Linked DNA regions of Homo sapiens: region 1 is linked to region 2. Evidence: fine-mapped expression QTL. A gene starts in region 2. The other region holds a variant in brackets. All regions are shown on one strand. Distances are from middle to middle. Region 1 has its middle 2.5 kb from the start of LYPD5. Region 2 holds the start of ZNF45-AS1 (ZNF45 antisense RNA 1).

The links.
Region 1: its variant is fine-mapped to the expression of ZNF45-AS1 in substantia nigra (GTEx, PIP 0.95).

Annotation. Positions count from the first base shown.
Region 1 is chr19:43,802,742-43,807,137 of GRCh38, reverse strand. It overlaps a transcript of LYPD5 not described here. Among named protein-coding and RNA genes, the nearest start is that of LYPD5, 2.5 kb to the right of the region's middle. The variant A/G (reference allele first, on the strand shown) is at 2,641.
Region 2 is chr19:43,899,190-43,903,585 of GRCh38, reverse strand. ZNF45-AS1 (ZNF45 antisense RNA 1) reads right to left here and starts at 1,720. Exons shown (of 3, transcript NR_184050.1): 1 at 1,442-1,720. LOC100505715 (a long non-coding RNA gene) reads left to right here and starts at 1,783. Exons shown (of 3, transcript NR_038334.1): 1 at 1,783-2,549; 2 at 2,632-2,718. RefSeq lists an enhancer at 1,780-1,849.

The DNA.
Region 1 (4,396 bases), 96 kb after region 2:
ACTCACAATAGCCCAGAGGCGAAACAACCCCAGTGTCCATTGATGGAAGGATGAATGAATAAATAGAATGCGGTGTATCCACACAATGGGATATTGTTCAGCCTTTAAAAGGAAGGAAATTCTGACACATGCTACATACAACATGGTTATACCTTCGGGACATTATGCTAAGTGAAATAAGCCAGTCACTAAAGGACAAGTACTATATGACTTCACTTATATGAGTTATCTAGAGCAGCGGTCCTCAACCTTTTGAGCACCAGAGACTGATTGTGTGGAAGACAATTTTTCCATGGACCTGGGGAGTGGGGGATGGTTTCAGATGATTCAAGAGCATTACATTTATTGTGCGTTTTATTTCTATTATTATTACATTGTAATATATGATGAAATAATTATATAACTCACCATAATGTAGAATCAGTGAGAGCCCTGAGCTTGTTGGGTTTGTTTTGTTTTGTTTTGTTTTGTTTTGTTGAGACGGTGTCTTGCTGTGTCGCCCAGGCTGGACTGCAGTGGTGTGATCTCAGCTCACCACAAGCTCCGCCTTCCGTGTTCAAGGATTCTCTTGCCTCAGCCTCCTGAGTAGCTGGGATTACAGGCGTGCCCACTATGCCCAGCTAATTTTTATATTTTTAGTAGAGATGGGGTTTCACCATGTTGACCAGGCTCATCTTGAACTCCCGACCTCAAGTGATCCTCCTGCTTCAGCCTCCCAAAGTGCTAGGATTACAGATATGAGCCACCACGCTTGGCCCACTGAGCTTGTTTTCCTGCCACTAGATGGTCCCCTCTAGGGGTGATGGGAGACAGTGACAGATCATCAGGCATTATAATCTCATAAGGAATGCATAACCTAGATCCCTTGCATACGCAATTCACAATAGGATTCACGCTGCTATGAGAATCTAAGCCACTGATCTGACAGGAGACAGAGCTCAGGTGGTAGTACAAGTAATGGGGAGAGGCTGTAAATACAGATGAATCTTCCCTCCCTCACCCACCGCTCACCTCCTGCTGTGCGGCCCCGTTCCTAACAGGTACTGGTACCAGGCCCCGGGGGTTGGGGATCCCTGATCTAGAGTAGTCAAATTCACAGAAACAAAGTAGAATGATGCTTGCCAGGGGGTGTGGGGAGGAGGGATAGAAGAAAGGGGAGTTGTTTGATGGGTAAAGAGTTTCAGTTTTGCAAGATGAAAAGTTCTGGATATTGATTGTACAAAACATGAATACACTTGATACTACTGAACTGTAAAAGAAAATTAAGATCTGATTTGAAAGAAAGAGATATTGATGCTGCAGGAAGAATGCATGTGAAAACAACAAAAGAGGCCAGGTGTGGTGGTTCACGCCTGTAATCCCAGCACTTTGGGAGGCCGAGGCGGGTGGATCACCTGAGGTCAGGAGTTTGAGACCAGCCTGGCCAACATGGTGAAACCCTGTGTCTACTAAAAATACAAAAATTAGCCAGGCATGGTGGCAGGCACCTGTGATCCCAGCTACTTGGGAGGCTGAGGCAGGAGAATCACTTGAACCTGGGAGGCGGAGGTTCCAGTGAGCCAAGATGGCGCCACTGCACTCCAGCTTGGGCAACAGAGTGAGACTCGGTCTCAAAAAATAAAAATAACAAAATAACAAAAGAATATATTGGCATACAATCTGCATGATCCAATTTTTGACAAGGTCATGACTAGAGTTCCAAAAGAAAATTCACAATTCTGATAATGTGTGAAATAACATTTATGCAGAACATGAGGACTGGAAGCAAGGGATGACCCACATTACTTAGGGAATATCTTAAAACGCATTACAATTATGACTTGTTTGATTAATGGAATCATTTCCAATAAGGCAAGAAATACTAAATACTTCTCAACTATTTGGGCCACAAACCCTAGAAGGTACCCACATTTAGTAAACTGCTTATGAAAATCAAATATGAAAAAAAATTTTGAGAGGCCAGATGTTTGCAAACATGATTGGAAATGGAACCATGCGTGGAAACTGATGGAATGCAACAGAAGATCCTTGAGAACATTCTAAGGCATTCAGAATTCTAAGGCATTCAACAGACTCGTGAACACTCAGACACCAGGCAGATGAAGACAGCCAGATGGATGCTCCCAAAAGGTACAGGGAGCTGACACTTCAAAGTCTCCAAAAGTACCTGAATGATACCAGAATCAAAAGTGCACACAGCACTCACATACTCATGCATTCACCAGACTGGTCTGCCTACCCTGTAAGCCTCAATCCCTGAAACTGACAACTGCTGTGAAGACCTTCAGTGCCTCCACCTTCCACGGGGGCTTCAGAAAAACCATCCTCCTTCCTGGCCAGACTCCACTCTCCAGAGACCCCCGAGCACAACCCTGCCCCGGTCTGGATAGACCCCCACTGAGAGCCTGGGGCAGAAACTGGAGAATCAGGAAGGAAGAATAATTTGTATGCAAAACAGGTTCTGGGAAGTGAGGCCTGATGGGAAGAGGAGGGATTTGGCAAGATGACAGTAAGGGAGGACATAGTTTGGTGAGTGTCCATAGTGGCTGCTGTCAAAGAAAAATTGCACAGGCAAGGCAGACTTTATTCAAGGAGATTGCAATAGGGAAAGAGACTGAACTCAACTCCACTGAAACAAAT[A/G]TGCTAGGGTGGTTAAGCCCTAGGTGAGTTAATGGAAAAATATTGGAGGACAATGGGGGAGGTGGGTCAATGGGATGTGTCCATCACATGGAGTTATTCTGTCAATGGGATGTGTCCATCACATGGAGTTATTCCTGAGTCTGCAAATGTTTTTCTCTGTGATTGGGCCATCTGAGTTTGCTGATTGTCAATTATCAAAGTGAGGCTCCTACCCTCCCACAGAGACTGGGCGATAGGGGTGCTATCTCCCTTGATGATTTCAAAGGGATAATTCCCAGGTCCTTGAAAAAGACATTCCTGGGTTGTAACGCTGGCAAGAGACCAGGAGAAGATTTACCTACATTTCAAAGGCGCAGAGAAGGCCGGGCACAGTGGCTCACGTCTGTAATCCCAGCAATTTGGGAGGCCGAGGCGGGCAGATCACTTGAGGTCAGGAATTCAAGACCAGCCTGGCCAACATGGTGAAATTCTGTCTCTACTACAAATACAAAAATTAGCCAGGCATGGTGGCACATGCCTGTAATCCCAGCTACTCGGGAGGCTGAGGCAGAAGAATGGTGTGAACCTGGGAGGCGGAGCTTGCAGTGAGCCGAGATCACGCCACTGCACTCCAGCCTGGGCAACAGAGTGAGACGCCGTCTCAAAAAGAAAAAGAGAGGGGGTGCGGGGGGAGCAGAGAAAGAATTTGCAATTATATTTGGCCCTCTGTGTCTATGGGGTTCTGCATCCACAGGTTCTACCTCCACGCATTCAGTCAACTTTGGATAAAAAATATTTTGAAACCAAAAAACAATAAAAAAAATAGAAATAGAAAACAATACCGAGGGATGACTGTACAAGTTTTCTAAAGTAAGTGTCCTACAAAAAGCGTGATCCAGGGCCGAGAGGAAGAAACCTGTCTAAAGTTTAGTCGATCTGAGGGGACCATTAAGGCTCTTTTGGTCACCAGTGTTACGTGGACTCTGCCATCCAGATGTGGGTCTGAGACTCTGGGTGTCTGCACATGGCTGGTGCCCACTCTGTGGCTAGTATCCACTAGCCTGATCCAGCAGGCAGCATCTCCAGGCAGCAAGAAGTGAGACAAACCAGGAGGTGCTAGCCTGGGGTCTCTGCCTCAGCACCAACCACCTGCTGGGGCCTCCTCTGGACCTCCTCACCTGCTGAGTGTCTGAGCATCCACATGTGTCTGCCTGTGTCCTCGGGGGACAGTGACCCTCTGGTTGTCTGCTGTATCTCCATCTTCTTGATTTCATTCATTTAATAAATGTTTCTGAAACACCTGGGGGCATGTCGTGTCTATCGGGGTGTCCCTCTTCACCTCTAGGTTTGTCTGTGTGACTACACAGTCACATCTGTTCACAGCAGGCTGTGTCTGTCTTTCTGCATCTCATGTGTAATTGCTTCCTCGAAGGCACACTCTCTCTCTCTCTCTTCCTCTCTCTCTGTTTCTCTTTTGTGTCTGTCTCTCCCTGTATGTCTCTTGGTGCCTCTCTGTTTGTGTCTTCATTCATTGATTCATTCGTTCAGTCATACGGTATCTCAGACATTCCTGGAGGCCCCCGAAGAGTTCACAGCCCGGTAGGGGAGACAGACGCTAGCCCAGCCTAGTTTGATCAGGGCTGGGAGACAGGAAGGTGCTGGAGGCTGAGGGTGTGTGGATGAGTGGGGAGATGGGGTTCAGAGAAGGTTTAGATGATGGGACGATGAACGTGTCTTTGGGTGTGGAGACATCCCAGGATTGGAAGCTGTGTGGGTG
Region 2 (4,396 bases):
AGGCAAGAGTGGAAGCATGGGTCTTTGCTGGCATGCTGGGGATAGTGCTGAAGGTTTTTCCTGTGGTGTTTTGACTAGAGCATGGCAGTAATTGTCTAAAAGTTTTCCTTCTTGCTAGGCTGCCCTCTTCCTTGTCTTTTGGCTAAAGACAGCAGGCTTTTGCTGGGACTTTTTTGTCTGTGCCCATTGGTGTATTGGGACTGCTAGCTTCTTTGGCTTTAAGTCTGGCACAAAGGAGGCACAAAGAAAATCAAGGGAACTCAGCACCAGTCTACCTTTTCTCTACCACTCAGTGTTCTTTTTCTCTTTTTTTATAACTAATGCCCAGGGTTTTTATTGTACTTAGCTGGACAAATAGAAAAAAGTACATCTATTCCATCTTCCTGGAGGTCCCTTCTCAATTTTCTTTTTCTTTTTTTGTAGGGGGAGACAGAATCTCACACTTTCTCCCAGGCTGGAGTGCAGTGGCACGATCTCGGCTCACTGCAACCTCCACCTCCTGGATTCAAGCGATTCTCCTGCCTCGGCCTCCCAAGTAGCTGGGACTACAGGCACGGGCCCCCACACCTGGCTAATTTTTGTATTTTTACTAGAGACGGGGTTTTGCCATGTTGGCCAGGCTGGTCTCGACCTCCTGACCTCAAGTGATCCACCCACCTCAGCCCCCCAAAGTGCTGGGATTACAGGCATGAGCCACCACGCCCAGCCTTTTCACAATGTTTAAAATACCAATTTTCCTGAAAAGTACCCATATATTGAGTGCAATTCCAATAAAAATGGCAATGCCACAAACATCCCCATTCATGTATTTTGGTGAATATGTATACACTTACATTTGGGTTAAAGGTAAGAATGGAACTGCTAGGTTATAGCAAATGCATATATTCAAATTCAATAGATCTTGCCAAATAGTTTTCCCAAGTGATTATATCAATTTATACACTCGCCAGTAGACTACGATATTAAGTTTCTTTGACCTTAAAATTCATTTTCTTATTTTGAAAGAAAACATTTCTGTGGGCTCTCGGTACTTTGCCCATTCAGCCTAATGGATAAGTAGGCCATAGTAGTATTTACCTTGGACAAATCAGCCAGACTCGTATTTTAAGTGAGAGAATGGCAATTGGGCATGAGAAATTTCAGAGTGGGAGTAGGAGTGAAGGGAGAGGGCTTAAAAAATTTACATAATCTCAAAATCTGAAACAAACCATTTCATGTCCAAAGTAACACACTTAGAAACAAACCATAATCCGGAATACAACCCCATCCATGTTCTCACACAATGAATTTCACAATGTCACAGAGTGAAAACACAAAACGCACAGGCATTCTTTCTCTAAAACCAATGCACACTTAACGCCTTCTGTGCTCCTGGAGCTACTATAGGTGCTGGCGCTACCTGGGAGCGCGAAAAACAAAAGCCCCTGTCCTCAGCTCGCACCTAGAATACCAACCGTGGACCATACGCTGGAGCTCGCCAACTTCTCCTCTCACACGCAGGTTTGAGGCTTTGAGGTCTGCATGCCCGTGCTCTGCCTTCTCCAGCCGAGACTCAAGATTCCACTCGCCTCCTCTAAACACGCAGGACGACCTGAAATCATAGCCCTTAATAGAGCAAGTCAACCAACGGTACAGATGGTCAAGCTCTTGCTCATGTGCCCTCCGAGCATAGGCTACAGAATGGCGGGCGCCGTGGACATGGTTATTCCGGGTGGACTACATTTCCCAGAAGTCACCGCGCTAGGGTCACCCTCGAGCTCTAGATCTTTTTCCGGTGTCCGAGCTGCTGTAGCCCCTACGTGGTGAGTAGATCGTCTCCACAGAAATCAGCGGAGGCTTCCACAGTCCCTGGTTGGAATGGAACCGGCGGTGAGGATGAGAGGCGCTGAAGACCAGAAGACCCAGGGCGTGAACGGGGCGTGTCATCCCTGGAGTTTCAGTAGAATTTCAGGCCTGTCTGCTTGAGCAGCAGAGGAGGAGTTTCTGTGTGCCTGTGAGAGACTGTGTGTGTGTGTGTGTGTGTGTGTGTGTGTGAGATGAATGAACAGGGTTGTGTACGTGTGTGTGCGTTAGACAAATGAACAGTGTTGTGTACCTGTGTGAATTGTCACTGTGACTCCAGGCTCTAGGCTCTGCAGATTCCTCAGCCCTATCGCCTCACAGACACTTGGGATGTGCAGCAGGTAAAAGAGAGAAGCCAGATTCATGGAGGCGTGAAGGATCCCAGCAAGAAAACACAGACTTGATCTTGAGACGAGATTTTTGAAATTGGTTGCGGCCTCAAGGCAGGCTCTGAGAAGACTCGATAAAGAGTTCTCAGGAATAGGCATCCCTCCTGGATATTTCCCCCTTGGAAGCGCCGAGGAGCCAGCTCTATGTTTGTAACCATAGCATTTCTAAAGCTCCAGCCCCAGGAACCTGCTGTGAATTAGAGACAGATTCCACCCTAGGCATCACTGATCTTGGCCTCTCTTGTATTGGGAAGGTCAACACTGTTCCAGTTTCTCTCCTACTCCCATCTGGTTGTGCTCGGTGAAGTAGGTGAGCAGGTATGATCATTGAGGGTATTTTCTAAGTTACTGTGCTATCCAAGAAACCCCAGCTGTCTCATGATTGCCTTCTCTTTTCCAGTGCTACCCTTCTGTTAAAAAAAAAAAAAAAAAAAAGATCCTGAAAGAGGAAAGAATTTTTGCTACACATCTGAAAGCTAAAGTCCAGGTGAGTTTATATTTCCTCATTACTTGTAAGATGCTCTTTAATTTTAAAGACATGAGACCCTTTCTTCTCTTTGGAAATGTCCTGCCTAACAGTGACGTATCTGTGAATATGCCATTACAGCCTCCTTTCAAGGCCCTTAAGCCCTTCTCTTCATAATTTATTTAACCTTTTGCCTACTGCGAGCTATTATGTTTCTAATTGTTGACTAAAAACTAGTCTATAATGAACACCATTTTGCAGAGATCTTTGCTTCCTTTTATAGCCATTCCCTGAGGATAAACCCTAGTTTCAAAATTTGAGTCAAATATCAGATATTTACCATGTGCTTGTACTTGTTAGGATACAATGACAAAAAGATATAGTTGCTATCCTCAAATGACTTGGTATCCAGTAAGGAAAATGAAATCGGAATAGGGATAAGAAAGATAGTTGATGTGAAAGGCCACTAGAGAAATTCAGATGACCTGTCTTGGGAGTTCACAGGGAAGAGGCATCTTTCTGGCTATAGCAGCATTGTCAGGATATGATCGAACTGTGAGAACTCAGTGAAAGAAAATGGATCTTATACCTTAGAGTTTTTATTCTAATGATGTTAAATGCAAAGTGACATTAAATGGAACACGATGTCTTAACAGCTGCTTGTAGGACACTGTGATTAGGAGGATAGATTCAGAAGTAAAATAAACCCATCTATCAGGAATGTATAATAGGAAGCAGCTTTGAGACTACCAGTAATGCATACGAAATATCAGAGTCTCCGATTTACATTGACATACATTTCTACAGGCAAACGAATCATAGGGTGGGTTCAGGTAATGGGAACTGATGAAAATAAAGTAAAAGCTTTCAATAAAACACAGCAGCAGTTTTTAGAGCAGCGCTGGTTCTCAAATGTAGGATGCATCAGAATCACCTGCAGGGCTTGTTCAAACAGTTTGCTGGGCCCCAGCCCCAGAGTTTCTAATTCGGTAGGTCTGAGGTAGAGCAGAGAATCTGCATTGGTAACAAGTTCCCAGGGACTATATTTAGAGGACCTTTGTTCTAGAGTATACTAAGTTTTCTCCTCCAGATCAAAAGATATTTAAAAGGTAAGGCAGGGAGGATTTTTTCCCACTTGTTCAGAGAAAAGATTGCTCTGTTAAAAATTCAAAAATCTATCTAACTGTGTCTCAAGACAAAAAGATATAGTTGCTATCCTCAAATGACTTGGTATCCCAGTAAGGAAGAATAAATCAAAATAGGAATAAGTAAGATAGTTGCCTTTTTAAAAAAAGTTTTAATTTTATGAAATATACTTTTAGGAATAGGCAGAAACCCAGGACTATAAAACAAATATTAAGTAAGTTAATATATGGGTTTATGTTTTCCATACTTTTTTCAATTTATTGATGTCTGTCCGTTTTTCTCTATATATTGATAAATACATATATTTTATAAATGTAATCATATTTACATTTGCATAATTGTATACATTTGTAACTCAATTCTTTTTTTTTTTTTTTTTTTTTTTAGACGGAGTCTCGCTCCGTCACCAGGCTGGTGTGCAGTGGCGCGATCTCGGCTCACTGCAACCTCCGCTTCCCAGGTTCGAGCAATTCTCCTGCCTCAGCCTCCCGAGTAGCTGGGATTACAGGCCCATGCCACCACGCCCAGCTAATTTTTCTATTTTTAGTAGAGA